2 separate regions of the Homo sapiens genome follow, and region 1 is linked to region 2. The links come from fine-mapping of genetic effects on gene expression. A gene starts in region 2. The other region holds a variant in brackets. All regions are shown on one strand. Distances are from middle to middle. Region 1 overlaps FIRRE (firre intergenic repeating RNA element). Region 2 holds the start of FIRRE (firre intergenic repeating RNA element).

What was found.
Region 1: its variant is fine-mapped to the expression of FIRRE in whole blood (TOPMed, PIP 0.99).

What each region holds. Positions count from the first base shown.
Region 1 is chrX:131,762,343-131,777,171 of GRCh38, forward strand. FIRRE (firre intergenic repeating RNA element) reads right to left here. Exons shown (of 10, transcript NR_152876.1): 5 at 6,207-6,354. Among named protein-coding and RNA genes, the nearest start is that of FIRRE, 61 kb to the right of the region's middle. RefSeq lists enhancers at 654-933, 1,986-2,035, 5,899-6,193. The variant A/G (reference allele first, on the strand shown) is at 5,879.
Region 2 is chrX:131,821,237-131,838,869 of GRCh38, forward strand. It overlaps FIRRE (firre intergenic repeating RNA element), which reads right to left and starts at 9,407. Exons shown (of 10, transcript NR_152876.1): 1 at 9,056-9,407; 2 at 3,986-4,129. RefSeq lists enhancers at 633-722, 883-1,122, 4,826-5,326.

The sequences.
Region 1 (14,829 bases), 60 kb before region 2:
AGGGACTGAACATAGGGACTATGAGGATCACGCCATGTGGAGCATATAGGCCAAGGAGTAATGACCAGATGGTCCTTACTCTATGACTTAAACCAAATTTTTGCCTACAATGCAACACATGAGGCTAGAACATGAACTCTCTGGTTGTCCGAGAGGGGAACCAGGTCAAAGACCACCAGGATTTGTAAACTGTTTGCCAAAGATCTTCCCCAAGTTTCAAATAAATTTTTCCTAATTGTACCTTCATCCACCCAGTTTATCACCTGAAGGAGACAATTTGATGCCATGGAACTTGCTGGACCTGTAACAGTGTGAAGTAAATCATACCCAGATAGTCTCAGTGAGGAGTATATTTAATTTCTGAAAGAACAAGATTCGTGAGGAGCATGGGTGGTTTAGGCCTCATTTTGTTTTCAGATGGAAAGAAAATAGCAAAAATTCAACAGTAAGACAAGGTCGTACCAAACTGGACAAATCTCCTGGTGGCCATGATCCGTGGGGCCTTTGTCTCTGGGTAGCATTTTTTCAGACAGAAAAGGCGGGAGAAGAAAGCTCCTAGACAGAGCTTCCAAGAAAATATGAAGCACTACTGCCACCGTGAGGAAATAGTTTGAAGACAGAATCCGCCATTACAGTATTCTTCCCTGGAAGCCTCGCTGTGGGGGAAGGTCTAATCTATGCTGAGGTGGAAGAGGATTGGGCTCCAGGCTAGGTCTTGTTGCCTTCTCCTCTAAGGTCTTAAGAGAGGCCTGGACATTGGCGGTATCTTGGTGTAGAACCTGGAGAGTGAGGGGCTTGGAGTGAAGCAGCAGCTGCCAGGCAGTCCTGGCACAGGAATTTCCGGGGCAGGGCCTCTATTTCCCCAGTTGTTTGCTGGACAACAGGAACCCACTCAAACACACATGCAGGCTCTTGTGGGCATCTGTCTCCTGTTCCTGCCCCTTGGAGCAAGAGTTGGCAGGCTTTCATGTGCTTGCATCTTGCTACAGGTCTTTGGGTCTCTGGTAGCATCAGTACCGTGTACAAGGAACAGGATTTTACCAAGCGACATTCACAGTATTTACTTTCCTTCACTCTCCAGGTTCTATACCAAGACACTACCAATGTCCAGGTCTTTTTTTTTTTTTGACGGAGTCTCACTGTGTTGCCTAGGCTGGAGTGCAATGGCGAGATCTCGGCTCACTGCAACCTCCCCCTCCCGGGTTCAAGCGATTCTCAGCTTCCTGAGTAGCTGGGATTACAGGCGCCTGCCACCACATCCGACTAATTTTTGTATTTTTAGTAGAGATGGGGTTTTACCATGCTGGCCAGGCTGGTCCTAAACTCCCGACCTCAGACGATCCGCCCGCCTCAGCCTCCCAAAGTGTGGTCTTTGAGGATAGGGCAAGGATGAGCAGCATGGAGCTCAAGCCTCTTCCCCCTCCCCACAGGCCAGACCTTCTCCAACAGGTGGAAGGACTGTCTTCAGGGGAAGGACATTGACATGGCTTAGGCATAGGGCGTAGGGCGTTGCTTAACTATGTCCTAACGGTGGCAGTAGTGCTCTAGATGTGCTAACAGGTGTCGTGGAGCCTTCTTCTCCCGCCCTTCTTGTCTGAAAAAACGCCACCCAAAGACAAAGGCACAAGGAAACATGGCTGCCTTGCTTTTTGCCCAGTTTGGAGTCATCTGGTCTTACTGTGGCAATTTTGCTTTTGTTTTCCATCTGAAATCAAACCAAGGCCGAAACCACCCACCCTCATCAGAAATCTTATTTGTTCAGACATTTAAAATCCTCCTAACCTAGTCTATATGATTACGATTTACCTCAGATTTATAGGTCCAGTACTTTCCATGGCATCAAACTGTCTCCCTCGGGGGATAAATTTGGGGATGAAAGCACAGCGATAAAATTGCTTGAGGCTCCGAGACCACCAGGATTTACAAATCCTGGTGGTCTCTATTCTGGCTCCCCTTCCAGACAACCAGGGAGTTCTTCATGTTTTAGCTCATGTGTTGCATTGCAGACAACAATTTGGCATGAACCATAGAGGAGGGACCAGATAGCTGTCATTACTGCATGCCATATGCGCTCCACATGGCATGATACTCATACTACATATCTTCAGTTCCTATCAAGGTTATTCACAGTTTCATCTCATGGTCTCGTCATTTAACATCAAAACTCGGCATGTTCCCATGACACTACATAGTCTTCAAGTATTTCCTGAGACTTTATGGGGTGTGTCTGTTTGTGTGTGTGTGTGTGTGCATGTGTATTTTATAATTTGTCTTTTAGATATAAGTCTTACAGTATTCTCCCACTAGTTAATTAAAGAATAATGCTTGACAAAGATTGAGAAAAATCAATGTACTAATAAAGATGGAAAGCACTACAATACAATTTGTCTAGGCAATAAATAAATAAATTTGGATTATTTCCATGCACTCCCAGGCTTATTAGGAAGAGGAAATTCCCGCCTAATAAAAGAATATATTTCCATGCATATATTCCCGCCTAATAAATTTTGGTCAGACTGGTTGATCTCAAAAACCCTGTCTCCTGATAAGATGTTATCAATGACAATGGTGCCTGAAACTTCATTAGCAATTTTAATTTCCCCTCGGTCCTGTGATCTCTCCCTGCCTCCACTTGCCTTGTGATATTCTACTACCTTGTAAAGTACTTGATGTCTGTGACCCACACCTATTCGCACACTCCCTCCCCTTTTGAAAATCCCTAATAAAAACTTGCTGGTTTTTGCAGCCTGTGGGGCATCTCAGAACCTACCGACATGTGATGTCTTCCCCAGAAGCCCAGCTTTAAAATTTCTCTCTTTTGTACTCTGTCCCTTTATTTCTCAAGCTGGCCGACGCTTAAGGAAAATAGAAAAGAACCTACGTGAATATCGGGGCTGGTTCCCCGATATATACACATCATTTTTTTTCTTTTTTGAGACTAAAACTCTCTCTGTCTCCCAGCAGGAGTGAAATGGCGAGATCTCGGCTCATTGCAACCTCCAGTTCAAGCGATTCTCCTGCCTCAGCCTCCTGAATAGCTGGGATTACAAGTGCATGCCACTAGGCCTGGTTACTTGGTTTTTTTTGTTTGTTGGTTTTGTTTTTTTTTTTTTTTGAGACGGAGTCTCGCTCTGTCACCCAAGCTGGAGTGCAGTGATGTGATCTCTGCTCAGTGCAACCTCCGTCTCCCAGGTTCAAGTGATTCTCCTCCCTCAGCCTTCTGAGTAGCTGGGACTAAAAGCATATGCCACCTGCCCGGCTAATTTTTGTGTTTTTAGTAGAGACAGAGTTTCACCATGTTAGCCAGAATGGTCTCCATCTCCCAACCTCGTGATCTGCCCGCCTAGGCCTCCCAAAGTGCTGGGATTACAGGCGTGAGCCACCTGGACCATCCCCAATTGTTTTGTATTTTTAGTAGACACAGGATTTCACCATGTTGGCCAGGCTGTTCTCCAACTCCTCACCGCAAGTGATCCAATCACCCTGGCCTCCCAAAGTGCTGGGATTACAGGTGTGAGCCACCACGCCCGGCTATATATACATTCCTAATTTCATGCAAATAACAAATCTGTATTGAAATTGGGTCACACTCTACACTGTGGTTTGGAGCAGATCAAGTGTGTATTTTAACAAAGCTTTCAGGAGGATGAATTCATTTGAATATCATAAATGGTAAATGTTTTCAACATTGCAAGCCTTCAGTGTAAATGAAGGTAACTCTGAAAAATATATGCTCAGAAACATTCCTTTAGAAATGTAGACACCATTCATTTTTTGTTTAAATTTTTACAGATGCATCACAACGTGCGTATTGGCTCTCTAGAATACATACATGACTATATGTTTGGTTTAAGGTTATGACATGTTAGAAGTAGAGTAAAATGCACTGGGCGCGGTGGCTCATGCCTGTAATCCCAGCACTTTGAGAGGCCGAGGCGGGCGGATCATGAGGTCAGGAGATCGAGACCTTCCTGGCTAACACGGTGAAACCTCGTCTCTACTAAAAATACAAAAAATTAGCCAGACGTGGTGGCTGGCGTCTGTAGTCCCAGCTACTCAGGAGGCTGAGGCAGGAGAATGGTGTGAACCCAGGAAGCAGGGCTTGCAGTGAGCCGAGATTGCGCCACTGCACTCCAGCCTGGGTGAAAGAGCGAGACTCCACCTCAAAAAAAAAAAAAAAAAAAAGAGTAGAGTAAAATACACTTTACTTTGTTATTTATTATTTATCTTATGGTGTGGTAGGTTTAATCCACAAGGTTCAACAATTTGCTATTCTCCCTAAATCAGAGGCAAGGAATGGCTGTTTACGAGGATACAGAGAATGCAATTAAGATTTTATGATGGCTAAAGGGACTACCTGGTGCAAATGAATGACATGTATCCAACCTAAATGGGAATGATAGGCTCATTGCCCCTCCACACTATCTTCCATTGCAGAATAAACCAATCAACCTCCTTGTCACTACCACTGGTACTTGGCTAGGTGTGATTTCCTTGCCAGGCTTCTATCCACTGCCCAGGCACACAGCCTCTATTAAAGATAGTTAGCAAGGGGTGAATAAAAGATCACTTAGCCTAAAGAATTCTAGGTTTGGGGACACCAGCATTTCTACCTTCAGATATGAGACACTGTCCCATAGGTAGGTCTGTATTCTTCCATGAAAATGGTCAGGTCAAACTATTCCTCCATAGGAGGTAGTTTAGCAGATGTCTAAGTCTACTTTAGGTGAAATACTCTGGGGAGGTAAGATATCAAGGGTCATGGAGAAATGCTTCCCAGAGAGTCTCCAAGACACTTGTGCATGCCAATAGCATTTATGTATGCAGATCATCATTCAACTAGACAAAGTCAAAGATGTCAAAAAAGCTAGGTTACCCTAGAATGCCTTACCCTGGAATGCCTGCCTGAATCCTCAGAGGCCAGGAGAGGTCATACCTGAACAAGCTCTTGAAGCACTGTAATGTCACAGTGCAGAACCAGACTAACATTAATTCCTTTCATTAAGAATTCAGATACTAAAATAATAAATTCTGAGGAAGAATGTCATGAGGATCAAGTCACCCATACACTTTTAGTCACCATTTTGATTCTCAATTATGAGTCATAAAGTATCTAGAGGTCTCCACACCAAAGGTTGGATATCTTCATTAGGAAATAGATTTGAAGCTGCTACAGAAAATACTAGCTAGGATGCAGTAGATAATGATTTGCTCAGGCCTAAACAATGCCATACTTACCAAGGACATCGAACAGAAAAGAGCCACCTATCTGCCCTCCTTGAGAGAACTGAGATGACATCGGCGTCCTATTATGACAAAAGACTTTCTCCTGAACCTATAACGTCACAGAAGCTGCTGGCTTGTGCGCTCAGATAATTGCTTAGGCCTTCCATTGCATTTTTGGCCTTCATCCTCTTTAGCATATCAGCTCTCCTAAAAGATGATCTGGCCCACATAGGCATCTCAGTGTATCCTTACTGCTCTACAGAGGTCCTTCTAGCTATAGGCAATGGTGGTTAGAATTTTAGTGTATTGAGGACCATGTGAGTGACGCTGACTTCAGATAGATGGTTCCTGGAATTGGCCTGTCATTGCCAGCCAACACTGCTGCTATAAATGTCACAGCCCCACAACACAAGGACAACCAGGTTGCCTAAAGCTCCCAAGGGCATATTCATAACATAAATGCCCCAAGGGTCTGTACTTGGCTGTATCATTTTCTAGCCTTGTCCCCACTATGAGAAAACAGGCCCTGTCCTCTACTTCCTGTGCCAAAACTTCCTGGAAGCAGCTGGCTCAGTCCTGCTCCCTCACTCAGCAGATACTTCACGGAGACTTTGCATTTGTTCATTGCTTCTGCCAGGCCTCAGAGAAAAGG[A/G]TAGGAAGATCAACTTGTGTCTCGGGTCTGTTCAGCCTTCACTGGCTTTTCCTTCAATTGCTAGGGCTCACATGGAGGAAACGCTCACGGCTTTGGATGCTACGAAACTGTTTCCGCACGATGGCAGTATTGTACGGGAGAAGCCAACTGACTTTGCTCTAGGCGCTATTCTCCCGCCCATCACATTTCAAAAAAAGGCCAAGAAGAGACAAAGACACCAGAAACTAGAACTACTTAGCAGTTTGCTCAATTTGTGTAAACTTATTCCACTCTTAGCATTTTGCTTTTGTTTTCCATTGGATATTAAACCGAGGTGTGATCCACTCACCCTCATCAATCATCTCCTCTTTTCATGAACTCAGTATCTGCACAACCAATCTTCTCATTTATACTCTTCTTCACTCAGTATTATATCTGCTGTGTTTTCTTACATCAAATTGTCTTATAGTACTGGGGCAGACCTCAGGGATCCATGCCTAAGGAAACAACAAACAAACAAAGAAATGTTAACACCTAAGGTCTTGGAGAAGAGCAAATCTAGGCACCAGGCCATGTGGTTCATTTGTTTTTTTTTTTGAGACAGAGTCTTGCTCTGTTGCCCAGGCTGGAGTGCAGTGGCGCTATCTCGGCTCACTGTAAGCTCCGCCTCCCGGGTTCACGCCATTCTCCTGCCTCAGCCTCCTGAGTAGCAGGGACTACAGGCGCCCGCCACCACGACCGGCTAATTTTTTTTTTTTTTTTTTTTTTTTTTTTTTTTTTTTTTTTAGTAGAGACGGGGTTTCACCGCATTAGCCAGGATGGTCTGGATCTCCTGACCTCCTGATCCGACTGCCTCGGCCTCCCAAAGTGCTAGGATTACAGGCGTGAACCACCGAGCCCGGCCAGGCCATGTGGTTCTTGTCCTGACTCCCTACCCAGGTTCCCTAGGAGTTCCATTTCATGTTCTGATCCAGGCATTGGGCCTTATATGTTGAGTGGGAGGCTGCCATTTAGTGGAGCTCTAAGATAAGGGACCAGGTAGTTCTCAAGCTTGACAGAGACACAGAACCCGATTCGAATGGACACAAACACAGGAATGACTATAAATTTTAATCAGATGGATCACAGGATTTTGTCTCATGGTTTCATTATTTAACGTTGGAACACAAACATTTTCCTGTGTCATTAAATGGCCATGGCTTAAGACTGCCCTATAACTTTGCTGTGTATATGTGTTACTGTTTTCCAGTTAGGATTCAGTCCTATATTTTCTCATTAGTAACAAAAAGGTGGAATTTGCAAAGAAGTAAAAAAAAAAAACCCATGTGCTGATCAAGAGAAAAGCAGTCTCATAAAACTGTATATTAAACACTGATACCCTTTTCCATATTTATTCCATTTTTCAATACATAGATAAAAAGTTCTATATATAGTCAACACAATGAATTTACATTTAAATTGGATTTAGCTATGCACTGCATTTTAGTATGAATATTCCATAGTATGAATGAAGATTTTCATTCTAAAATTTGATTTCTGACCAGTTTTTGACATTGTCATATAAAATTTGCAATTTCTGAATTTTGGACAATAAAATATTTGCAAAGAACTATGTGATTGGACTAGTCATTAAGAATTAAGATCTCACCTTGCTTTTTTAATCTATAAAATCTATTTATACATACATAAACACATATATAAATATATATATTTTACATAGTTATGCCTCTGAAAATTAGGATTTTAAAATTATTCTTGAATTTTTATCTCTAATTCTTACCTTCAAATTTTATCTTTAAAATCTCAAAAGAAAGAAAACAAAATTCAATAAATGATAATTGAAATAGGCACATCTCATATTCAGTCACTTAGATGTGAACCCCAGTAAAACTTTAAGATGGATGTATTCACACCACTCACATGAAGCTATAATGTTTCATTAATGTCTCTGTTTATGTAACTATGAATTAAAGATATGAATTTATTGGTCAAAAATATCATATTCAAATGCATGCTCAGTATAACACTGACCATGATATAAAATATATGGCATTGGCCAGGCGTGGTGGCTCACAACTCTAATCCTGGCACTCTTGGAGGCTGAGGCAGGAGGATCACTTGAGCCTGAGAGTTCAAGACCAATTTAGTAATTAGCAATTTTGGCAATGTAGCGAGTCCCTGTCTCTAAAAAAAAAAAAAAAAAAAAAAAATAGCCAGGCATGGTGTCATGCACCTGTAGTCCCAGCTACTCAGGAAGTGGAGGTGAAAGGATCACCTGAGTCCAGGGAGGTTGAGGCTGCACTGAGCCATGATCCTGCCACTGCACTCCAGTCTGGGCAACAGAGTCTGATCCTGTGTAAAAAAAACATATATATGGTATTTAAACATTTGTATATGCATATGAACAGATATGAATACACACAGAGTACCGCACACATTTTACTTTCAATATAACTGGATTCATACTATTTGAAATTTGGTCCAAAATCCTCAGCATCACCTTATAATCTTTGAATATATCCATATCAATATATACTTCTGAGTGCTTGAGTTTTTTTATATTTTACTCTAGAAGAATTTTAAGAATTATAAGCAGAAAACATATGGTAGGTCAAACACAGTGAGAAGAAATAATCACTTTTAAAATGTTTGGGCTACGTATTATGATTTGTTCCTTTGCACATATAATATGTACATTTATAAACTAATGTTCAAATTCCCCTGTAGTATAATTGTTAAAACAAGTTGTTAAAACCCTGGACCCATGAAGCAGTCATTCCCCATGCCACTCTATGCCGAGCCCCTGGCAAACACTCATCTGCTTTCCCTCACTACTGATCATGACAATAAGGGGCCTTTTTCATTTTGCTTTTTTCACTTAGCATGTTTTCAGATTTCATCCATGTTGTAACTGATAACTTGAGTACTTTTCAAATATAATTAGTTATTCCTGGAAATAATGATAGGTTTAAAAATATTGGCACTTTTTAAAACTGTGTTGGTATAATTCATGTAACATATAATTAACCATTAAAATGTGTGAAATTCAGCGGCATTTAGTACATTCACAATGCAGTGCAAGCACTAACTCTGTGTAGTGGCAAATAATTTTCATTACCACAAAAGAAAACCCTGGACCCATGAAGCAGTCATTCCCCATGCCACTCTATGCCGAGCCCCTGGCAAACACTCATCTGCTTTCCCTCACTACTGATCATCACAATAAGGGGCCTTTTTCATTTTGCTTTTTTCACTTAGCATGTTTTCAGATTTCATCCATGTTGTAATATATGTCAGTACTTCATTTCTTTTTGTAGCTGAATAATATCCATATGTATATATCACATTTTGTTTATCCATTCATCAAGTGATTGATGTTTGCTTGTGTTCACCTTTTGGGTATTGTTAATAAATATATACAGTGAGTATATACATGTACTTTTTTGAGTATTTGTTTTCAATTGTTTGCGGAGTATACTTAGGAGTAGAGCTGCTAGGTCATACGGTTATTTCTATGTTTAAATTTTTGAAGGACTGATAAACTTTTCCATAGCAGATGCGCAATTTAGCATACCCACCTTCACTGCAGAAGGGTTCCAATTTCTCCGCCTCCCCACCCATATTTGTTCTTTTTAAGTAATATCCATTCTAGTGGGTGTTAAGTGGTATCATGAAGTGGTTCTGATTTACATTTCTGAAAACACTAATAATGGAAGTATGTTTTCATGTAATTGTTGGTCATTTGTGTATCTTCTTTGGAGAATTGTCTATTTAAGACCTTTGCCTATTCTTAAAATTGATGCATTATAGTTGTACATATTTATGGGGTACACATGGTATTTTGATGTATGCATAAAATGTGTGATAACCAAAAAAGGAAAACTGGGATACTCATTCCCTACTGCATTTATTATTTGTGTTCGGGAACATTTCAAATGTGTTTTATCTATTTGGAAATAACCATTAAATTATTGTCAACTATAGATGTCCTAACTGTGCTGTTGAACACTAGAACTTACTCCTTCTGTCTAACTGTATTTTTGTAGCCATTAACAAACCTGTCTTCATTCCCCTCTCTTCCTAACTTCTGGTACCCACCATTCTACTCTATACATACCATGAGATGGATTCCTTTAGCTCCTACATATGAGTGAGGACATGTGATAATTTGTCTTTCTGTATCTGGCTTATTTCACTTAACATAGTGTCCTAAAGTTCCATTCATGTTGCTGCAGATGACAGAATTCCATTCTTTTTTCTGGCTAAATAATCTTCCATTTTATATGTATGCCACAGTTTCTTAATCCATTCATCCATTAATGAACAGTTAGGTTGATTCCATATCTTGACTACTGTGAATAATGCTGCAATAAACATGAGAATGCATATATATATATATATAGTACTGATTTCCCAGCAGTGGGATTGCTACATCATATGGTAATTCTATTTTTAGTATTTTTGGGAAACTCCATCCTGTGTCTCATAGAGGCTGTATTAATGTACATTGCAGGCAACATTATACAAGCATTCCTCTTTCTCTGCTTACTAGCCAACACCTGTTACTCTCTGTCTTTTTTGTAAGAGTCATTTGAGCTGGGGAAATACGGTACCCCACTGTAGTTTTGATTTACATTTCCCTGATGATTAGTGATGTTGAGCATTTTTTCATGTATCCGTTAGCCATTTGTGTGCCTTTCTTTCAGAAATGTCTATTCAGATCATTTGCCCATTTGTAAATCAGATATATTTGTTTTTTTTCTATTGAGCTGAGCTTTTTTAAGTTTGCAAATATATTCTCTCTTACTGTAGGTTGTCTCCTCACTTTATTGTTTTCTTTGCTGGGCAGAAGCGTTCTAGCTTGATTTACTCTCATTTGTCCATTTTTGCTTTGATTGCCAGTGCTTTTTGAGGTCTCCCACAAAAAAATCATTGCCCAAAATGATGTCTTAAAGCATTTCCGCAGTCTCTTCTTCTGGTACTTTCATATTTTCGGGTCTTTTCTTATATTTGTTGAGCCTTGTTCTGTGGCCTAACACATGCTCTATACTGGAGCGTGTTCCATGTGCTGACTGATGACAAGAATGTATATTCTACAGCAATTGGATGAAACATTTTGTAAATGTCAGTTAAGTTCATTTGGTCTAGAGTACAGTTTAATTCCAATGTTTCTTTGTCTGGATAAGCTGTCCATTACTGAAAGTGGGGTACTGAAGTCTCCCACTATTGTTGTACACCTGTCTATCTCTCCGTTTAGATCTCCAAATGTTTGCCTTATCTATTTGTGTGTTCCAGTGTTGGGTACGTACATATTTTAAATTGTTATATCCTCTTACTGAATTGGCATCTTCATTTTTTGTTTTGTTTTGTTTTTTTTGTTTGTTTGTTTTTTGAGTCTGGCTCTGTCGCCCAGGCTGGAGTGCAGTGGCGCGATCTCCGCTCACTGCAAGCTCCCCCTCCCAGGTTATGCCATTCTCCTGCCTCAGCCTCTGGAGCAGCTGGGACTACGGGCGCCTGCCACCACGCCCGGCTAATTTTTGTATTTTTAGTAGAGACGGGATTTCACCGTGTTGGCCAGGAAGGTCTCGATCTGCTAGCCTCATGATCCGTCCGCCTCGGCCTCCCAAAGTGTTGGGATTACAGGCGTGAGCCACCGCGCCCGGCCGGCATCTTTATTGTTATACAGTGACCTTCTTTGTCTCTCTCTACAGTTTTTGACTTTAATCTAATTTATATAAGTCTAGCCTTTCCTGTTCTTTTTCCATTCCTGTTCATTTTCATGTTGTTGCTGATGTCCCGCTCTGGTTTGAGATCTTCTTTGCCTGAGTAAAAGAGAAGTCCCCAGATTTAATGCACTGGGGTTGCTAGCTTCAACTCCACTTTCAGTCTCAGACTACCCCCTCAGGGATTTTTCCTCCTACAGGCAGTCAGGATGCCTCCTAGGGATTGAGGCAAGAATAGGATCCCTGCAAAGGACACCAAAATGGGAGAGAAGCTAGCTCTCTGCCTTGATCTCACATTTTACAGAGGAAACTGTGAACCAAGGGGTACTTTTCTTTTTTTCTTTTCTTCCTTTTTTTTGGTGGGGGGGGGAGCAGGGGGATGGAATCTCACTCTGTCACCCAGGCTGGAGTGCAGTGGCGCAATCTGGGCTCACTGCAACATCTGCCTCCCAGGTTCAAGTAATTCTCCTGTCTCAGCTTCCCGAGTTGCTGGGATTATAGGGGCACACCACCACGCCCGGCTAATTTTTGTATTTTTAGTAGAGACGGGGTTTCACCATATTGGTCAGTCTGGTCTCAAACTCCTGACCTCAGGTGATCCACCTGCCTCGGCCTACCAAAGTGCTGGGATTATAGGCGTGAGCCACCGCGCCCAGTCAAGGGGGACTTTTCTACATGGTGCCTAGCAGCCTTGGGTTGGGGAGTCATGGAGAGAGAAGTCCATTAGTCTTTCTAGCTGCTCATACTTTTTCACTTCCTTATAGCCCCATGGATAGTCACAGTCTCAATGTTCAGTTCTGGAATATTGCTTCTAGTAATCTTGTCTCTACACAGCTGTTTTTACTTTTCTTTGAGGTAAAGTCAGATCACTTCTGCTATACCATGTTGGTGATATCACTCTCCCTTTGCCTATTTTTTAAAAATTGGGTTATTTGTCTGTTTATTGTTGAGTTTTAAGAGTTATTTGTTTTTATTGGATATTAGAAGTTTTTAGATAATTGATTTGGAAATATTTCCTCCCATTCTGTAAGTTGGCTTTTCAAGTTCTGAATTGTGTACTTTGATGCAAAAAGTTTTTAATTTCAGGGAAGTCCAATTTATTTTTTCTTTTGTCATTGCTGCTTTTGGTGGTATAGCTAATAAATCATTGCCAAATCTAAAGTTGTGAAGATGTATCCCTATAGTTTCCCTGAAGGTTTTATAGCTTTAGCTCTTATATTTAGAAATTTGATATATTTTGAGTTAATTTTTGCATATAATGTGAGGTAGAGGTCTAAATTCATCCTTTTGCATGTAGATAACCAGTTGTCTAAGTACTATTTGTTAAAGACTCTATTAACTACTCATAAAATGACCTTAATAACTTTGTCACAAATGAATTGACCACAGTGTCTGAGTTTATTTCCAGGCTCTCCATCTTTTCCATTAATCACTGTGTGTATTCTTATTTGATTATCACACTGCTTTGATTACTCCAGCTTTCCTAATAAGTTTTGAAATCCAGAAGTGTGAGTCTTCCACCTTGGTTTTTCTTATTCAGAGTTTACATTGGTTATTCAGATCTCTTGCAATTCAATAGGATCTTTAGGATTTGTGTTCCTTTTTTACAAAAAAAATGCTCATTGGATAACAATAAGGATTACATTAAATCTATAGATCTCTATGGGTAGTATTGCCACGTTAAAAATATTTAGTCTTCAGACCCATTACCACAGGATGTTCTTTATTAAAATTTAGGTTATCTTTAACTTCTCCATTATTTTGTGATTTTCAGTGTACAAGACTTTCATCTATTTAGTTAATTATTGTCCTGAAATTATGATTCATTTTGATGCTATTGTAAATGGAATTGCTTTCTTAATTGAATTTTCAGATTATTCATTGCTAGTGTACACAACTACTACTGATTTTTCCAAGTTAATGTTCTGTCCTGCAGTTGCTTGCTGGATCTTGTTCACTACCTCTAATACTGTTTTTCTGGGTTTTTGAGCTTTTTTTTTTTTTTTTGACTGGAGTCTTGCTCTGTCGCCCAGACTGGAGTACAATGGCACGATTCCGGCTCACTGCAACCTCTGCCTCCTGGGTTCAAACGATTCTCCCACCTCAGCCTCCCGAGTAGCTGGAATTACAGGCACCCGCCATCATGCCCGGGTAATTTTTGTATTTTTGTAGAGACGGGGTTTCACCATGTTGGCCAGGCTGGTCTTGAACTCCTGATCTTAGGTGATTCACATGCCTCAGCCTCCCGAAGTGCTGGGATTACAGGTGCGAGTCACTGCGCCTGGCAGCATTTTTTATAAGATCACTGTATTTGTGAAGAGAAATAATTTCCATTTTTTCTTTTCAACTGGGATATTTTTTATATATCTTCATTGCCTGATGACCCCAGCTAGATTTTAAGTATAATGTTTAAGAGAAGCGGCAAAAGTGGGCATTTTTCTCCTGTTCATGATTTTAGGAGCAAAGTTTTCAGTCTACCTCTTGACTATATTATTAGCTGTAGGTTTTAATAAATGCCCCATATATCGTGCTGAGAAAATGATCTTCTAATTACATATTATAGATTGTTTTGAGTTGCTTTTCTGGAGAGATGGACTACAGAAAGTGTCTACTGCACCATTGTCATTGATGTCACTTTTGCTACCTGTTTTTGAATTTGTAGGAACACTCATCCTTCTTCAAAATGTGCCTGACAAAATAGTCACATATGAAAAAGTAGTTACAGATAGATAGGCAATGAGCACGGCAGGAAAGGGCTCTCCCTGACCCAGTAGGAATGTCACATGATGGTTCGGCAATGATCACATTGCCCCTCTAAAAATGATAATTTGGTAGCCTGGGAGAGACAATCTCCTGATGATCCACATCTGTTAATATTAAAAGTACGAATTGAATGCAGGCCACAGGGAGAAGCAGCTTCTTGGGCATGCGTATTAAGACACAAAATGGCGAAATATGATGTTCCGGGTACATGCCACCAGAAAAAAGAAAAAAGCCTCAGATGGGCATGTGTATAACTCCCTAAACACACTGCACAGTGCTCAATTCCAAAGGGTAAGGAGGGCACTGCGCATGCGGAAAGCTCACCCTAAAGGAAGAATCATGAGCAAGAGGTAAGCCTATAAGGTCCCATGATCAAGGTTAAAAGGTCTTTTTGTTCTCTTGGCCATTCAGGCACCCACTTGGATCTCTTCCAAGGGTTCTTTCTTTCCTTTCTTTCCTGTTCTAAAGCCTGTTAAATAAACTTCC
Region 2 (17,633 bases):
CGTCGTAAACACTAGTAAAATTGAGTATCTTTTCATTTATTTAATAAACAGCTGGAGTTCTTCTTTTGTAAATTGCCTGTTTAATTCCTTTACCAATTTTGCCGTTGGTTTAAATACGACAGAAACAGAAAGTTTTAAATTTTTTAGTCACAGGACGCTTACGCGCAAACACACATACAAAAAATCATCTTCAACTACTCTATGAGGTCAAATGCTAACTGAGTGAGGAAAGTAGAAGAGGGCGCCAGAATGTTTCTCCATTATGCAATGAATCCCAAGTAATTCTAGACATTCTCCACCAACTTGGGAACAAGAAGTATGGGTTGTCAGGCTTACCAGGTATCCTCATCTGGAGCTTTTTATGAAGAAGTAACAGAGAAGAACAATTGTTATGTATGAGGAGAATCACTAGACTTCAAGGAGTTCAGCATCCTCTGGGAGAACAAATAAAGAGATGAGCACTCCTTCCTTCTTCCCCACCAACCCCACCAAGAGACCTGAGATGACGGCAAAACTCTATTAGGGGACAGGCCTTGGCTATAGGTGTAACATTTTTTGGCCTCTTAGTGTATGCCTCTGCTCTCTAAGCAGGAGATTTGGCCTTTTTTGGCTCGGCGGGATGGCTCCCAATGCTTCTTCATTTCCCTCCTTGCTCTAAGGCAATGGGGTCCAGACTTTTGCTGTGTATGAGATCCCCCAGCAAGCACAAATGCTGTTATAAGTTATCTCCTCAAATTAGCCTATTTTATGAGCTGTGATGCTGCTATCACAAGGAGCTCAGGTTCTATGGCTCCAGAACAAGGTGAATTGGCCTGAACCATCTTCTGAGGGACAGGGGCAGGAACAGGAGACAATGGGCACAAGCCCTGCACTGGGCCCTGAAAGTTTTCCTCAACGGAAGCCCCACCCGACAACTTCCTGTGCCCGGACTTCTGGCAGCTGTTGGCTCTGTCCGGCCTCGCCAACAACAGGTTTTTACACTTGGATATCACCTTTGTCATATTAGCATCAAGTCTTTGCCCAGAGCTCCCGGAATAATTCAGAGAAGTCAGGGAAGCCCAATTTCGGGTCAGGGCCTGTTCAATCTCTCCGCTGAACGGGCGTTTCTAAACCGAAAGACCTCACGGGACGGACGCTGTAATGGCGTAGGGTATTTTAAAACTATTTCCTCACGATGGCAGTCGTGCTCCAGATATGCCAACAAGTACCGCTCCCTAGTCCTTCTCCCGCCCTTTCTGTCCAAAAAAACACCAGCAAGAAAAAGGCGCCAGGAAACATGGCAGCCTTACTTTTGCCCAGTTTGGGACAATCTTATCACGCTGCTGCACTGTTGCTTTTGGTTTCCATTTGAAACGAAACTGAGGCCTTCTCTTTTTAAGAACTGCATTTCCAATAGGTTTAGCTTTCACAGTTGTGTTCTCGCTCACTCAGCATACATCTCCAGTATTTTCCCAAGTTATCACGTTGTCTGCTTCTGGATTCAAGACTCAAGAATCCAGGCCTAAGCAGAAAAAGAAAATGCTACAAACTCAAGGCCGGGAGGTTATCTCTAAGTACCAAACCACATGTCCTTGCCTGGCTCATCCATCTGTAAGGCTCCCAAGGAATTCTATATTTTCAGGATAGAGATCTAAGTCTTATGTGTTGACTTGTTGGCAGCCATTTGGCTGGAGTCTTAAGAGAAGCGCCCAAGTAGCTCCCATTCCAAGAGTTTTGTCTTGTGATTTCATTTACCATTTGAAGACACTTTCCGATGCCATTAAGTGGTCTCCAATTGCTTCCTACCACTTTATTGGATATGTAGGGACATGTGTGTGTGTGTGTGTGTGTGTGTGTGTGTATTTATCTTTATATCTGTATTTACCATTTATCTCTTAGAGATAAGCCTTAAAACCACTTCCTCATTAGTAATTAAGACATGATGTTTGCCAAGGATTCAGAAATAACCATGCACTGATAAAGAGTAAAGCGCTGTCATAAAATTGATTAAGACCACTGATAACTTTTTGGATCATGTCCTCTTACTCCTTTCAATACACACAGAGTTTTATATTTATGTTCATATGTGACAATGAATTTATATTAAAATTGGTTGTTTGTACATGATGGTTTGCCTAGGAGATTGCCACTCCTGATTCTCAGACAGTTTGGCCACATTACATAAAATTTTTGTCTTCATGTTTAGTAATCAAAACACTGCAAAAAAATGTTTCTTGGCTGGGCGCAGTGGCTCACGCCTGTAATCCTAGCACTTTGGGAGGCCGAGGCGGGCTGATTACCTGAGGTCGGGAGTTCAAGACCAGCCTGGCCAACATGGTGAAATCCCGTCTCTACTAAAAATACAAAAAATTAGCCCGGTGCAGTGGCGCGCGCCTGTAATCCCAGCTACTCTGGAGGCTGAGGCAGAAGAACCACTTGAACCCAGGAGGCCGGAAGTTGCCGTGAGCTGAGATCACGCCACTGCACTCCAGCCTGGGCTACAGAACGAGACTTCGTCTCAAAAAACAAACAAACAAACAAACAAAAATGTTTCTTATTGCTCCATTTATTATAGTTTAAATATGGCATATATAATATATAATATTGCTATACATATATGTGCACATTTATTTCACCTTAATTATAACTTGACTTATACTGGGCATAGTTTTATACAAAGTCTTCTGCACCAACTTACATAAATTGCATGTTTCCATATATCAACATCTATTTTCCCTAGCTGGAAATTTCTTTATACTTGATTGTACAAGGAGGTTTCTCTTCGAAGGAATTATAAAGGTAACATCTGCTGTTGGAAATCTGCTCATATTTTAAGAAATTACAAAGCCAAAAATAAATGGTATCTCAATGAAAACTAGAAGAAATAACTTTTAAAATGTCTTTGCCATACATTCTCTTATCTTCCCTATCCATATATAATGTACATTTTTTAACCTAAAATCCCAGTTACCTTGTATGTCAGACATGCTTTTCTCAGGACAGTTTGAGGTCTTTGGAAACATCATTAACTACTCCTTGGAATATGCAATATTTTTAAGGTTGCTTCTCATATTTTTGCATTTCCTAAAATTAAGCATACCTGTTTACAAAATAACCAGACACATTAGCCTTGTACAAAGAAGTGCAGTGAGGCCACAAGTAATGCCCACTGAAGCAGATAAGGATTTTTAAAATGTGGGTGTCTTGAATACACCTGTTTTCTGTGATCAGTTAAATATATAAATATATTAGGTCTCAAATAGCCAACAAATCAAGTTTTCACCAACAATTTCTTCTGCACATATTTGTTCTGGGTTGACTCTCAAATTACAAATATCTTATCAGCTTCTTGAAAAATCTCTTAGAATACACAATCTATGAAGAACAAATGGAAACACTTTATCACAAATCCCACTTTTTTGAGGCATCCACTATTAGCAGCTTGATGAGTATATTGGTTTAAACATTAAAAAAATGATATATAACTGTTCAATAAGAACTGATGTTATTCAGTGAAATAAATTTAATCTATATCTCATTAATATACTCCCCACATTCCTCAGCACAATGCTAGGCGCGCGCGCGCGCGCACACACACACACACACACACACACACACACACACACACACACTTCCATTTCTTTTCTTCAAATCCATCCTCATTGGTCCCACTACACATAGAATTTGGTGCCCTGAATTCTCAATTCAACACTAGAAAATGAGTACTCTCCAATATCATTAACTTTTCTTGAGGAACAAGATAGTTTTTTATGGTTAAATCTCATAGCATTCTTTTACTGTTGATCAAACCGTAAGAATTATATGCATCTGGAAAAAAATCAGTAAGTGGAACAAATATATAGCAGTAAAGAAATGATACTCTTAAGAAGTTTAATAGATATTCCATTGATGTTTGTTATATTGCATTCTGCTCTTTTTATTATATAATTGTACATGTGTGGGCACATGTGGACAGGTTGTCAGGATTTGGTGACTTTTTACTTACATGATATATGAGGAATATCCTTGCATGATACATGAGGAATATCCTTGCAACTTGAGTTGCTTCTTTCTATCATAGTTTTCTCAGGTCTCACATCACATAAGTCTCATCATATGTCGTGAAATATGCTTCAGAAAGCTGGATTTTCTGTTAAGTAAAATTTGGAAATAGAATTTCAGAATAGAGCCTTTAAATCTTGCATGTGTGTAGAAGTGTGTATGTTTTAAAGAAAAATACATCTTGTAATATGTTGTTTTCCTAATTATATATTGAGATGATGCTGGTTTCTTGATTTTTAAAAAACTTGCAAATGTAAGCTTTTCTCATTTTCAACATTTCAAGGCTTTGGACAAGTGTAAGTTAAAACGTGAAGGCAAGTCATTAGAAACATCACTGTAGAAAATTACACACTGTTAGTTGCTTGACTGGGGAACTTTCCAGATAACTTCCTTTCTGCCTATTTGCTTTTCTGAACCAATAGGTTTATGTGTTCAACTTGAATTAATAACATATGTAATTAAGAGAGAAAGAAAGACTTCATCTTTCATTTCTATTTCCTTGCTATTAGCCAACCAGAATGGTTTGATTCCCGTTACAACATTTCACATTTTCTTCCCTAAATCAGAGGTGTGGTCATCTCCCCTATTGAGGACTTGGCGAATGGATTTCAATCTTTCCAAAGGCTTAAAAAGACTACCTACTATAGCTGAACTTACTGTAGTTGAACTTGGACAATGGATGTTTTGCCCCCTCCCCACCGCCATCCTTGCAAAAGAAATCTCAGCGATCCTCTTTGTCCTCTCCTTTCTACTTTCCTGTGGGAGTTTGGCTGTGCGATCACTTTCAAGAGGTAGTCTCTGGACAAAGGGTATGCTCATGTGAAAGGTTAAATGATTTGGCCTGTTGACCTTCAAAGAGGTGTACCAATTAACAGTGCTTCTCACCTGGTAGGACCTTGTCCAATTCTACAAATCATTACACAAACACTGACATCAATGGATTCCTTTTCAAAGGCTTGCTCGGGGTTATGATGAAGATTTAAGGGCATTATGGAAGAATACAGTGAACTGCAATTTACTTCAGTACTGGTGAATTTGAGACTGTGATAATAGAGGTGCCTTATTCCTTTGCCATCTTTCCTGCTGAGTGGTTTTCTTTTTAACTACATTTTGAAACAGCTTTTGATCTGAGCTGACTGTCAATGATTGAGTGGTATTGAGAGTTGGCAATAGTTATAATCTCCCATTCCTGGTCACGGTGTCACGTTTGAATTCCTGGGACTCAGCAAGTTGCTGCTGCTTTAGGCCTCTATCCACTCTCTGACCAGATAGTCTCTTAATGTAAACCAAAATGTGTGGGAATACAAAATTCCTGACCCTGAGGAATTCTAGGGCTGGGGCTACCTCTCTGTCACTCACAATTCTAAGTTAAGTTATGGTGCACTGTCTCCACACATCTGGCTTTCCTAGTCTAGCATATGGTCAAGTCAAACTGTGACTCAACAGCAGGCAGCCTAACCCATCTGATGCAGGGTTTCTCTCAGTCACCTGCTTAGCTGAAGTAGGCTGAAAAGGTCAGAGGTCACCTTACACTTTCATAAGGTATTTGAGACCATTGAGACATGCTTTCTCAAATGTTTTCAAACCCTTCTTGGCTCATGTCAACCTATAACATCCTCAAGGACAGCTAGACCAAGGCATGAATAGCAGGAAAGTCAATTTCCCCAGGGACCCTATGGTCTTTGTAGTAGTTGCTAAAAACTTCCTAGTAGATGTTATAGCTCCACCCTGGGCAAGTAGAATTCAGGTGGTGACCATATGTTACAGCAGTGCATGAGAATAACATTCCTTTCTCTTCTGTAAGTGGTCAGCCACTGAATCCATCACTGATACACGAGAAAACTCTCACATGCAGTCAATCTTACAAAATTTTTGCCTTTTCTTGCTATGCTATGGGCAAGTGTCCTGAGGGTCCTGATGTGCTCAGCTTTTAGAGGGCTTACAAGGAATCTTCATTAGAAAAAGGCTAAGAAGCAGGCACAGAGAACAATACTTGCTAATCTGAATGAACAGTTAGGTCCCAAGTCTCAATGGCCTCATCTTCCTTAGGGGAAGGCCAATAGCTAAAGAACTCATTTCTGTTCCTTTAATAGAGCTAAGAGTAGGTTTCTCTAAATAGGTAGGCCTTCACACTGGGCCCTAGAAAAAGTGCTGCAAAGCCATGGTAGCTGTTACCTCCTGGCTTCAGAAAATACTTCCAGGTCTTCTGGTTGTGTATATCTGCACTCCTATTGATGTTCAAGGATTTATTGGCTTGGCCAAGTGACACACACTGCCTTCTCCTCAGGTCTTCCTTGCTCTAGGCAATGGGGGCACCAGACTTTTAGGTATCCTTGAGACCCCCAGAAAGCACGCTGGCTGCTGTTAGATATCATCTGGAATGAGATGTTTCATCTGCACCCTAACATTGCTTACACCTTGTGCCAACCCCCTACCTCATTGTTCAAAGGGCATGGCCAGAGGATATGTGGCCAGAAGTCCCCCCAAATAGGATCTGAGCCATTTGTTTTAGCCCCACCCTCACTGGGTAGATATCTAAGCCCCAATACTTCCTATACTCCACCTGCCTAGTAGCTGTCCCTTCAGTCCTCCCCCTGACCCCCCACTTATCAGCTTCTCCCCCAGGATCCTGCCTTTGTCCAGAGCTCCTGGAAGGCTTCAGATTTAAAGTGAAGGGGACCTACTTAGGGCTAGGGTCCACTCAACCTCACAAAAGGCCCAACATTTCTCAGTTGCTAAAACTTGGGGGGGCTCTAACAACTTTGGGTTTGTGTTTTGTCAAACTACATCCTCTTGATGGCAGTATTGCTCTGGAAAAGCTGATTAGCCTTGCCTGGGCACCCCACCCCCAGAGCCCTTCTCCTCTCACCCATTCAATCTGAAAAAAGCTACCAAGACAAAGGAGACAGGAAACAAAGCTGCCTTGCTATTGGCCCTGTTTGGGGAAAATCTGCTCTTTCGAATTTACTTTTGCTCCTGGTTTCCCTCTGAACTCAGACTGAAGCCTATACCACCCAGTTTCATCAGCCATACTTTGTTTAAAGAATCCCATTTCCGATAGCATTAGGAGATATACCTAATGCTAAATGACGAGTTAATGGGTGCAGCACACCAGCATGGCACATGTATACATATGTAACTAACCTGCTCATTGTGCACATGTACCCTAAAACTTAAAGTATAATAATAATAAAATTTAAAAAAACAAAAAAATGCCCATTTCCACTCTACCATAGCTTTGTAGGTCTGCTCTTCTTCATTCAACCTTGATCCCCAACAATTTCCCAAGTTATCTGCTTCAGTGGGAAATTCTTAGGGACCTAGGGCTAAGAAAGTGAAGAAAATAATGGAAATAACAGCCTAGAGAAGAACAAATCTAGGCACCAGGCCATGTGACTTGTTTCACTGCCAGGTTCCCTGGGAGTCCTCCATTTTCTGACCTGGGCACTAGGTCTTGTGTATTGAGTTGGGGGCAGCCATGTCAGAACCCTAATAGGAGGGTCCAGATAGATCTCAAGGCTGAATTCCATACAATATCCCTCTTGGGGTGACACACACACTCCAAACTTACAAAATTCCAGTAGAAAGGAACATGATTTTGTCTTATGGTTCCATCATTCAACATTAAAACACAAGCAAGTTCCCATGCACATCATTATTTGACTTTTAATGGCTTCCTATGGCTTTATTATATATGTGTGTGCCACTGCTTAAGCTTAGGAATCAGTCTTATGGTGTTTCCTCATAAGTAATTAAGACATGGTGCTTGTAAAGAATTTAGAAAATAACCATGTGCTGATCAAGAACAAAAGCACTGTCATAAAATCTTGTATTAAACACTAATAGCCTTTTGCATATTTACTCCCATTATTTCAACATGCACAGAGGTCTATATTTACGGTAATACACTACAATAAGCATATTTAAATTAAATTTATATATGCATCATGTTTTAGATGCAAACTTTTCACTGCTCATTCCTGGGTAACTGAAATTGTCATGAAATATTTGCAAGACCTGGATTTTAGATAATAAAATATTTGCAATGAGCTTCTTGATTGACTAATTCATTAAAGAATGTTAGGTTCTCAATTTTTAAAAAATTTATACACAGGACATAATACCTATAATGCCACCACTCAAGTATCTTAATTTTGATACCTGCCTTACCTAATCATTAGTATGCTGACTATATATATATATATATATACATGCTAACATTGGAACAGGCACTATGTGCTTATGCCTCAGAACATTAGGGTTTCTTTTGTTTATATTTTTCAAAACTTATACCAAAATTTTATCTTAAAATTTTATGTAAAATCTATAAAGTTGAAACGCATACTCACTCTAACACTGACCATGATTATGCATGATATGCATAATGCATATATATGTATAAGCATTAGATAGATAGGTCCAAGTTACCTGGTTACAGGCCTAGAGGGAAAAGAAAATGATTGCACCTATTATATATATATTTACTTCTCTTTATTTATTTATTTTTATTCAGCCTCTGGGAGCATGGACTATCCTTTTCTTTAAAGACAATTGAATGCAAACTGGATACAGTTTTGCACAAATTCTTCAACACCACCTTATACCATTTGCATACATGAATGACAATGTATATTTGAGTGCTTGGATTTTTTTTGTATCTTACTCTAGAAGACCTTTCTATTTCAAGAAATTACAAAAGTTACACCCACTGTTGGCACCGTTTAGATTTTAAGAAATTATAAGTAGAAAGTAAACGGTACTTCAATCACAACAAGAAATAGCCACTTAAAAATATCCTTGCCATACATTCTTATATCTTCACTTTGCACAAATAATATACACTTAAAAAATGTTCAAATTCTCTTGTACTTTGAATGCTAAAACAAGTTTTCCTCATTTGTAACTTGAATGCTCTTCAAATCTCATTAAGTATTCTTTAGAATAATGACAGGTTTTAAAATCTTGCCACATGTTTTTGCATTTCTAGAAATAATCATGCTTCTTTACAATGTACCTGCTATAACAGCCATGTATGGAGAAGTGAAGCGAGGTCACAGGTAATGCCACCTCCAGCAGACAAGAACTTTTAAAATGTGGGTTCATCTTCAATCCTCTTCACTCGGTTTTGGTTCTCATCTGTTTGTGCGTGGTCAGCTCTCCTAGCAAAAGTGCTAACCCTTCTTGGTTTGGCGGGCTGATCCCATTTCTCTTCAAGGTCCTCCTAGCTGCAAGCAATTTGGTTGCACCTGGGACCTCCAGCAAGCACATGGCATCCTTTTATAAGCAACCTGGTATTGTCTGGTTCTCTGCAGTGACTCTGCTACCACAAAGGTCCTAGGCCCCAGAGCCTGAAGGCACCACGTGTCAGCCTTTCCCAGACTCTCAGGGGCGGGGAGAGAGACGAATACCCACAGGCCCAGTACTTCGTTGGTTGGTGGCTTCCTCCAGTCCCGCCCATACTGGGAGAATACCAAGACCCCACCCTACAACTTCCTGGGCCTGGACTTCCTGCCAGAGGCCGACTTAGTCTTCCCTCCCCACGGGCCAGTTCCTACACCTGGACCTCACTCTGTCCAGAGCTTCAGGTAGGCCTCAGGAGGTGGAACTAAGATCCAGCTCATGGTCCGAGCCTGCTCAGCCTCTAACAGAATGGAACTTTCCAATATAAGCCCTCTAAGGGATGGGGCTTTTTCCAGAAATTTCCTCACGATGGCAGTGTTGCTCCTGGAATTCTATCCAATACTGCCCCCAAGCCCTCTTCTCCCGCCCGTCTGGTATGAAAAAAAAATGTGACCAACAGATTAAGGCACCAGGAAATATGGCTGACTTGAGAAACTCGCTCATACTATTGTGATTTTGCTTTTGGTTTTTCATCTGAAATCAAACTGGCGCCTAAACCTACACTCTCATCAGGGGTCTTTTCAGTTCAAGAACTCAATTTCCACTTACCTAGTCTTCACAGTTCTGCTTTTTCTTCACCTAACTTTTTCTCATGGTACTAAATTGTCTTGGTGTATCAGGGGTCAAACCTCAGGGATCCAGGCCTAGAGGGAAAAGCAAATGGTTGCATCTAAGGGCTTGGAGAAGAGCAAATCCATGTTGTTCTTGCCTGACTCACTTCCCAGGTTTCCCGGGAGTCCTACTCAATTTCTGGCCTAGGCACTAGGCCTGTGTGTTGAGGGAGAAGCAGTTGTCTGGAACCCTAAGCTAAGTGTCTAGATGGTTCTCAAGACTGCGTGCTATACAGTGCCCATTTGGAAGGGTACACAAACTCAAATATGTATAAATTCCAGTCAGAGGAGACTGATACAGTCTCATAGTCAAAATAATTTAAAATCGGAACACAGGCATGTTCCTATGTTCTTATATGACTGTCAATGGTTTCCTGTGACTTTAGTGTGTATATGCTTATCACTTAGGGGTCAATCTTATGGTATTTTATCTTACGTAATTAAGACATGGTGCTTGCAAAGGATTTGCAAAGGATTCAGAAAAGAACCATGTGCTGACCAAGAGTAAAGCACTGTCATAAACAGTACCTATTAGTAATACTGATAAACATCTGGATTATGTTTTGTGAACTAAAAAGTGTCTGAGACAGGTCTCAATAGTTTCAGAAATTTATTTTGCAAGTTTAAGTACACGCATGCCTGGGAGATAGGTCCATGCCTTTCTTCAAAGATGATTTTGAGGGCTTCAATATTTAAAGGGGAAAGGGCAGATACTGGGGAAAGGGGAAGAAATTTTGAAAAGATGTGGGTAGATAAGAGGCAAAGGGTAGCATTCTTTTGAGTCTTTGATCAGCCCTTCATAGGCGAGATGAGGGTAGAGGAATAGTCACGTACACATTCATCTAGCTCAGTGAATCTGCATTTTTTACATAGGATAAAATAAACACAGGGCAGAGGAAGCAATCAGACATGCATTTGTCTCAAGTGAGCGGAGGGAAGACTTTGAGTTCTGTCTTTTGTTCCATACCTGTGAGGATAAGCCAAAATTTACATTGTCAGGGTGAAATTCAACAGAACTGTTTCAGGGTAAAAATCTTGGGGCTCACAAGGAATTTCCTAGTGGGCAAATTGTGAGGGAGATATGTAGCTTTTTGTTTTTGCTTTGTTCAATCATTGTAGCCATCTTATTTAGGAATAAAATGGGAGGCAGGTTTGCCTGACGCAGTTCCCAGCTTGACGTTTCCCTTTGGCTTAGTGATTTTGGGGCCCTGAGATTTATTTTCCTTTCACAGTTTCAACATACACATGCAAACTCATATACTCATGCACTCATTTCAATATATACACATAAACATTTATATTTCGTGTCATACACAATAGTAAGTTTACATTAAAATGAGGTTTATTTGTATGTTATGGTTTGGAGTATACTTTCACTTCTGTTTCCTGGGCAGTTTGTCATTATCATGAAAAATTTGCAAGACCTGAATTTTTAGTAAATGAAACATTAACCAAGAGCTTCTTGATTGCTACATTCAATAACAATATGGTCTCTGAAGACATGTTCACTTCATAAAACACTTATTTAACAACTGGAAATTTAATTCCTATGATGTCTCCTCTCAGGTATCATGATTTGAAGAGCTTCTAATCTTTATTATGCTAACATGTGTATACTCTAAAACAAATATTGAATCACAAGTATAACATGCGTGCATCAGAAAATATAGGATATTCCTTCCTTCTCAAAATTTTAACCTACAATTAAATCTAAAATTTCATCTTATTTTATTTATTTATTATTATATTTTTAGAGACTGGGTCTGGCAAGTCTATGCAATCATGGCTCACTGTAGCCTTGACCTCCAGGCTCAAGCAATCCTCCCACCTCAGCCTCTGGAGTAGCTAGGACCACAGGCACACACCACCACACCCAGCTATTTTTTTCTTTTTTATATTTTTTTGTAGAGAAGGGGTCTCCTTATGTTACCCAGACTGATCTCTAACTTGTAGGCTCAAGCGATCTTCCCAATTCAGCCTCCCAAAGTGCTGGGATTATAGGCATGAGCCACTGCACCTGGCCTAATCTTATTTTATTACTAAAAAAAATTAACAACAGATTGCATTACTGTATAAATAAAGTCTGTGTCCTCATCTCTTTAGCACTGTGACTGTGACCCAAACACGTACTCCATCAAAGGTTCAAGGTGAATGCATTGACATATTTTTATATTCATCTATAATCTTTTCTTAATGTTTCCCTTTAAATTTATTTATTTCCTAAAAATTAGGTCTTGCAAATTTTTCGTAATGACAAATTGCCAAGGAAATAGAAGTGAAAATATTATCCAAATCATGATATATGAATAAATCCCATATGAATGTAAACTTATTATTATATATGAAGCTAAATATCAAAGTTTCTATGTGTATACATATACACATGTACACATATACATACATATACAAACACACATTAATATACGGACAAAGAGAGTGAAATTTAAGTGCATTGTTACTATAATAATCATAATTAAAAATATACACTTTTTAGGGAGGCTGAGGCAGGAGAATCGTTTGAACCTGGGAGGCAGAGGTTGCAGTGAGCCAAGATCACACCACTGCACGCTAGCCCTGGAGACAGAGTGAGACTCCGTCTCAAAAAATATATATACTTTTTAAACATAAGTACACATATAGATGGATATGGAGTCATGCCTAATTTAATGACAGGGATACATTCTGAGAAGTGCATTGTTAGTTGATTTCATCATTGTGCAAACATCATAGTGTACTTACACAAATCTAGATAGTATAGCCTACTACACTCCTAGGTTGCAGAATATAGCCCATTGCTCCTAGGCTACAAAGTGGTATAGCATGTTGTTATACTGAATACTGTAGGCAATAGTAACAATGGTAAGTATTTGTGTATCTAAACATAGAAAAGGTACAATAAAAATACGATATTATAATATTATGTATGACATAACCATCATATATGCAGTCAGTCATTGACCTAAAGATCATTATACAGGGCATGACTGTATACTAATGTGTAGTTTATCTATCTTTAAACATAATTGAATGAATACCGAAGGTAGTTTTGAACAGAAACATCATCATTATCTCATACAATTTCCATGTTCCCATATACATATATGTACTTGGAGAACTTGAAATCTTTTTATTCTACCCTGGAAAGAGCCTTATTATCCAGAAAATTTAAAAAGCAATAGTTGCTGTTGGCAAACTGTTCAGATATTGAGAAATCATGAAGCCAAAAATAAATGATAGTTCAATCCCAACAAGAATAAAGACTTTTAAAATGTCATTCACCCAGACTGGGCAACATGGTGAAACCTGTCTCTACAAAAAAATACAAAAATTATCCTGGCAAGGTGGAGTGTGTCTGTAGTCCCAGCTACTTGGGAAACTGAGGTGCGAAGATCACCTGAGCCCAGGGAGGTGGAGACTTCACTGAGCCAAGATCGTGCCATAGCACTCCAGCCAGGGTGACAGAGCGGGACTCTGTCTCCAAAATAAATAAAAGAGGCCGGGCATGGTGGCTCACGCCTGTAATCCCAGCAATTTGGAAGGCCGAGGCGGGCGGATCATGAGGTCAGGAGTTGAAGACCAGCCTCACCAACATGGTGAAACCCTGTCTCTACTAAAAATTCAAAAATTAGCTGGACGTGGTGGCACATGCCTGTAATCCCAGCTACTCAGAAGGCTGAGGCAGGAGAATCGCTTGAACCCGGGAGGCAGAGGTTGCAGTGCGCCAAGATCGCGCCATTGCACTCCAGCCTGGGTGACAGAGCAAGACTCTGTCTCAAAAATAAATAATAAATAAATAAATAAATAAACAAAATGTCATTCTCATCTCTTATGTACATATAATAACATTAAAAATCATATTCAAATTCCTTTGTACCTTCAGTGTTCAGATACATTTTCTGTACATATTGTAGCTAGAGTACTTTCCAAACTTCATTAAATATTCTTTGAAATACTGATTATATTTTAGAGAGTAGCCTCTTACTTTTGGGATTTCACAAATCAGATGTATTTCTAAATAATGTGTTCAGGTACAACATCCATTTTTAAAGAAGCATAGCAAAATCATAGGTAATGCCACCTCAAGAGGACAAGGACCTGCAAAATATGGTTGTATTTTCAACCATATTTCACAGATATATGTTGTATACATTCAGAGATATAGATTCCTTAGGACTCTCTCATGTGTTCAACACAGCAAGTTTTCACCAATAATTTCTTTTGCACTTTTTTTTTTTTTTTTTTTTGAGACAGAGTCTCACTCTGTTGCCCAGGCTGGAGTGCAATGGCGCGATGTCAGCTCACTGCAACCTCCGCCTCCCAGGTTCAAGTGATTCTCCTGCCTCAGTCTCCCGAGTAGCTGGGATTACAGGCATGTGCCACCACGTCCGGCTAATTTTTGTATTTTTAGTAGAGAAAGGGTTTTGTCATGTTGGCCAGGCTGGCCTCAAACCCCTGATCTCGGGTGATCCGCCCACCTCGGCCTCCCAAAGTGCTAGGATTACAGTCGTGAGCCACTGCACACAGCCTTCTGCACATATTTATTCTGGATTTGTTATTGAATTACAAAGATAATAGAAGCATTATGAAAAATTTCATAGAGTGCACGAATCAATGAAAGACCTAAGGAAATACTTTATCCCAAATCAATCTATCCCAAGGGAACCACTATTAGCAGCTTAATGGGTACATGTATTCAAATGTTGTAAATAAGGTGTACAACCACTCATGAGAGCTGACATTATTTAACTAAATAAATATATCCTACTGCACATCAATAAACTCCCCTATTTGCTGACAAGATGCTTGGAGCATACATACATTCATCCAGGGAGGAATATACCATTTATTTTCTTCAATTACATTCTAGTTAAAATGTAGGTGGAGTTTTGTGTCATTGTTTCTTCATTCAACATTGAATAATGGATACTGAATAGCATATCTCTTCATGATAGTACTTTATTTTTAATCTCATACGATTGCTTTGTTGTTAAGTTCTTAAGGATAATAGATGCATCTGGCAAAGAAATGACAAATGAGTAATCGTAAAACAGGAAAGAGAGGATACTCTGAATCACACAAACTCAATTGATATTTCAATCTAGTACATTCCACCTTTTCTTCTATATACACTTTTGCATGGGAGTGTACAGGGGTTTTTTGGTATGAATTTAAATGGACATGACCTATATATGGAATTCTCTTTTTAATTTATTTTTCTTTTTTATGCTTTACTCAGGTCTTTTATAGCGAGGCCACTTACAATGCCATTAAGCATGCCAAAGAAGACTGGATTTTATGTTAAGTAATTATTTGCCAAAAGCTTTTCTTTCCATGACCATTAAAAGTAGGACATTAATCATTTCAATGTATATATAGAAGTGTGCCTATTCTTATGGAAAATAGAATCTGAAATAAAACAATATTGTATAACTTGTACCTTTATTAAATGTATACTAGGACCTTTTTTGGGTTTTCTGTAAATTTCAGAATCAACCCTTGCTCGTTTTCAACATTTCAATTTTTAAGACATAAATAGTTAAAACCTGTAGACTCTAACTTGTATTTTTGAGATACAAACTATACTAGTGTTTGATTAGAAGCCTTCCAGAAACTGTACTTAGTACATATTCACCCTCTAGAATCCGTATATGTTTATGGTTCTGTGTAACAGTAGAGAAAAACAGTCTTTCATAAGAGTAATCCTCATGATTTTGTTTTACACATTAGTTTCTTAGGGATACCAAAAGCATAGCCAACCAAAGAAAAAACTCGACAAACCAGATTTCATCAAGTTTTAAAAAAGTTGTTTCACAAATGATACCATCAAGAAAGAAAGAAAAAACTCACAGAATGGGAGATAATGTTTTCCAATCATATATTTGGTAAGGGACTTGTATCCAGAATATAAAAAACTCTTACCACTCAGTCATAAAAATATAACTCTTTTAAAAATGGACAAATGATCTGAATAGATATTTATCCAAAGAAGATATGTATATGGCTAACAGCATGTGAAAAGATGGTCAACCTCATTAGCTATTAGAGAAATGCAAATGAAAAACACAGTGAGGTACTACTTCACAGCCCCTAGGTTGTCTATATTTTAAAAAGACAGATAATAACAAGTGTCAGTAAGGATATGCATAAGCTGCAAGCTTCATATATGGCTTGTGGAAATATCACATGGTACAGTCACTTTAGAAGTAGTCTGGCAGTTCCCCAAAAGTTTGAAGATTCTATCATCATATGACTAATCAATTCCAAACCTATTTATCTACACAAGAGAAATGAAAACATGTTCACACAAAAAGTAGAAACAACTTAAATGTCCATCAACTGATGAATATATATAAAAATGTGGTATATCCATACAATGGACTGTTATTCAACCATATTGAAGAATGAATTATTGATACATTGTACAACATGAAAAATCCCTCAAAACATGCTAAGTGAAAAAAACCAGACACAAAAGACCATATCTTGTAGGATTACAATTATATATAGTTTCCAGAATAGGCAAATCCATAGACACAGAAAGTAGATTAGTGTTTGCCAGGGACTAGAGGAAGCTGAGAATGAGAACTGCTAGTAGGCATATTTCTTTTTGGAGTGATGAAAATATTCTAAAATTGATTATGGTAATGATTGCACAATTCTGTGAATATATTGAAAACCACCACATTGTACATTTTAAATTGGTGGAATTTATAGTGTGTGAATTCTATCTCAATAAAGCTGTTTTTAAAAGTTTCAAAAATTAACAGGTTAATTCACATTTATAAAATTAATAAGAAAAAGCATATAATCATCTGAAATTGTGTAGAAAAAGTATTTGACAAACATAAACACCAATCCTGATTTTAAAAAACTCTCACCAAACTAGAAATTGAAGAAAATATATCTTCAATATGGTAAAAATATACAACTAATGTCATACTTAACACTGAAAAAGTCAACACTGTTTTTAAGACCTAGAGCAACGTGAGGAATTCGTCTCTCACCTCTTCTATTCAACGTCATACCAGATTTTCTAAGAAGTGCAATTAGGCAAAAAAAAAAAAAAAAAAAAAAAAGAAAAAAAGATTACAGTTTGGAAAGAAAGAAGTAAAAGTGCTTTCACAGATGACAGTATTGTTTACATAGAATGATTCTTCAAAAACACTTCTAAAGCTGCTAAAGTCCATATCTTACAGACAAGGTATGATTGGTGTTGCTTTTGTATCTATTCAAAAAAACTGTGTCTTTTATGTGGAATGTTTAACCATTAACAGCTAATGTATTTACTGATAGGTTTTAATTTTGGGCTACAATTTTATAGTTTACATTGTTTGTCCTCATTAATTTGTATTCTTCCATTTCCCCTTTCCTTCCTTTCAAGTATTAGAACACTTTATCTTTTAGAATTCTATTATAATATGTCTGTTGGCCTTTTGGCTATACCACTTTGTGTTATTTTTTAGTGGTTATTCTTGCGATTGCAATATGCATCCTTAACTTTTTATAATCTTCTCAGAGTTGATATTTTACCGCCTCATACAGAATGTAAAATCCTTATAACAATATACATACTTTTACTAT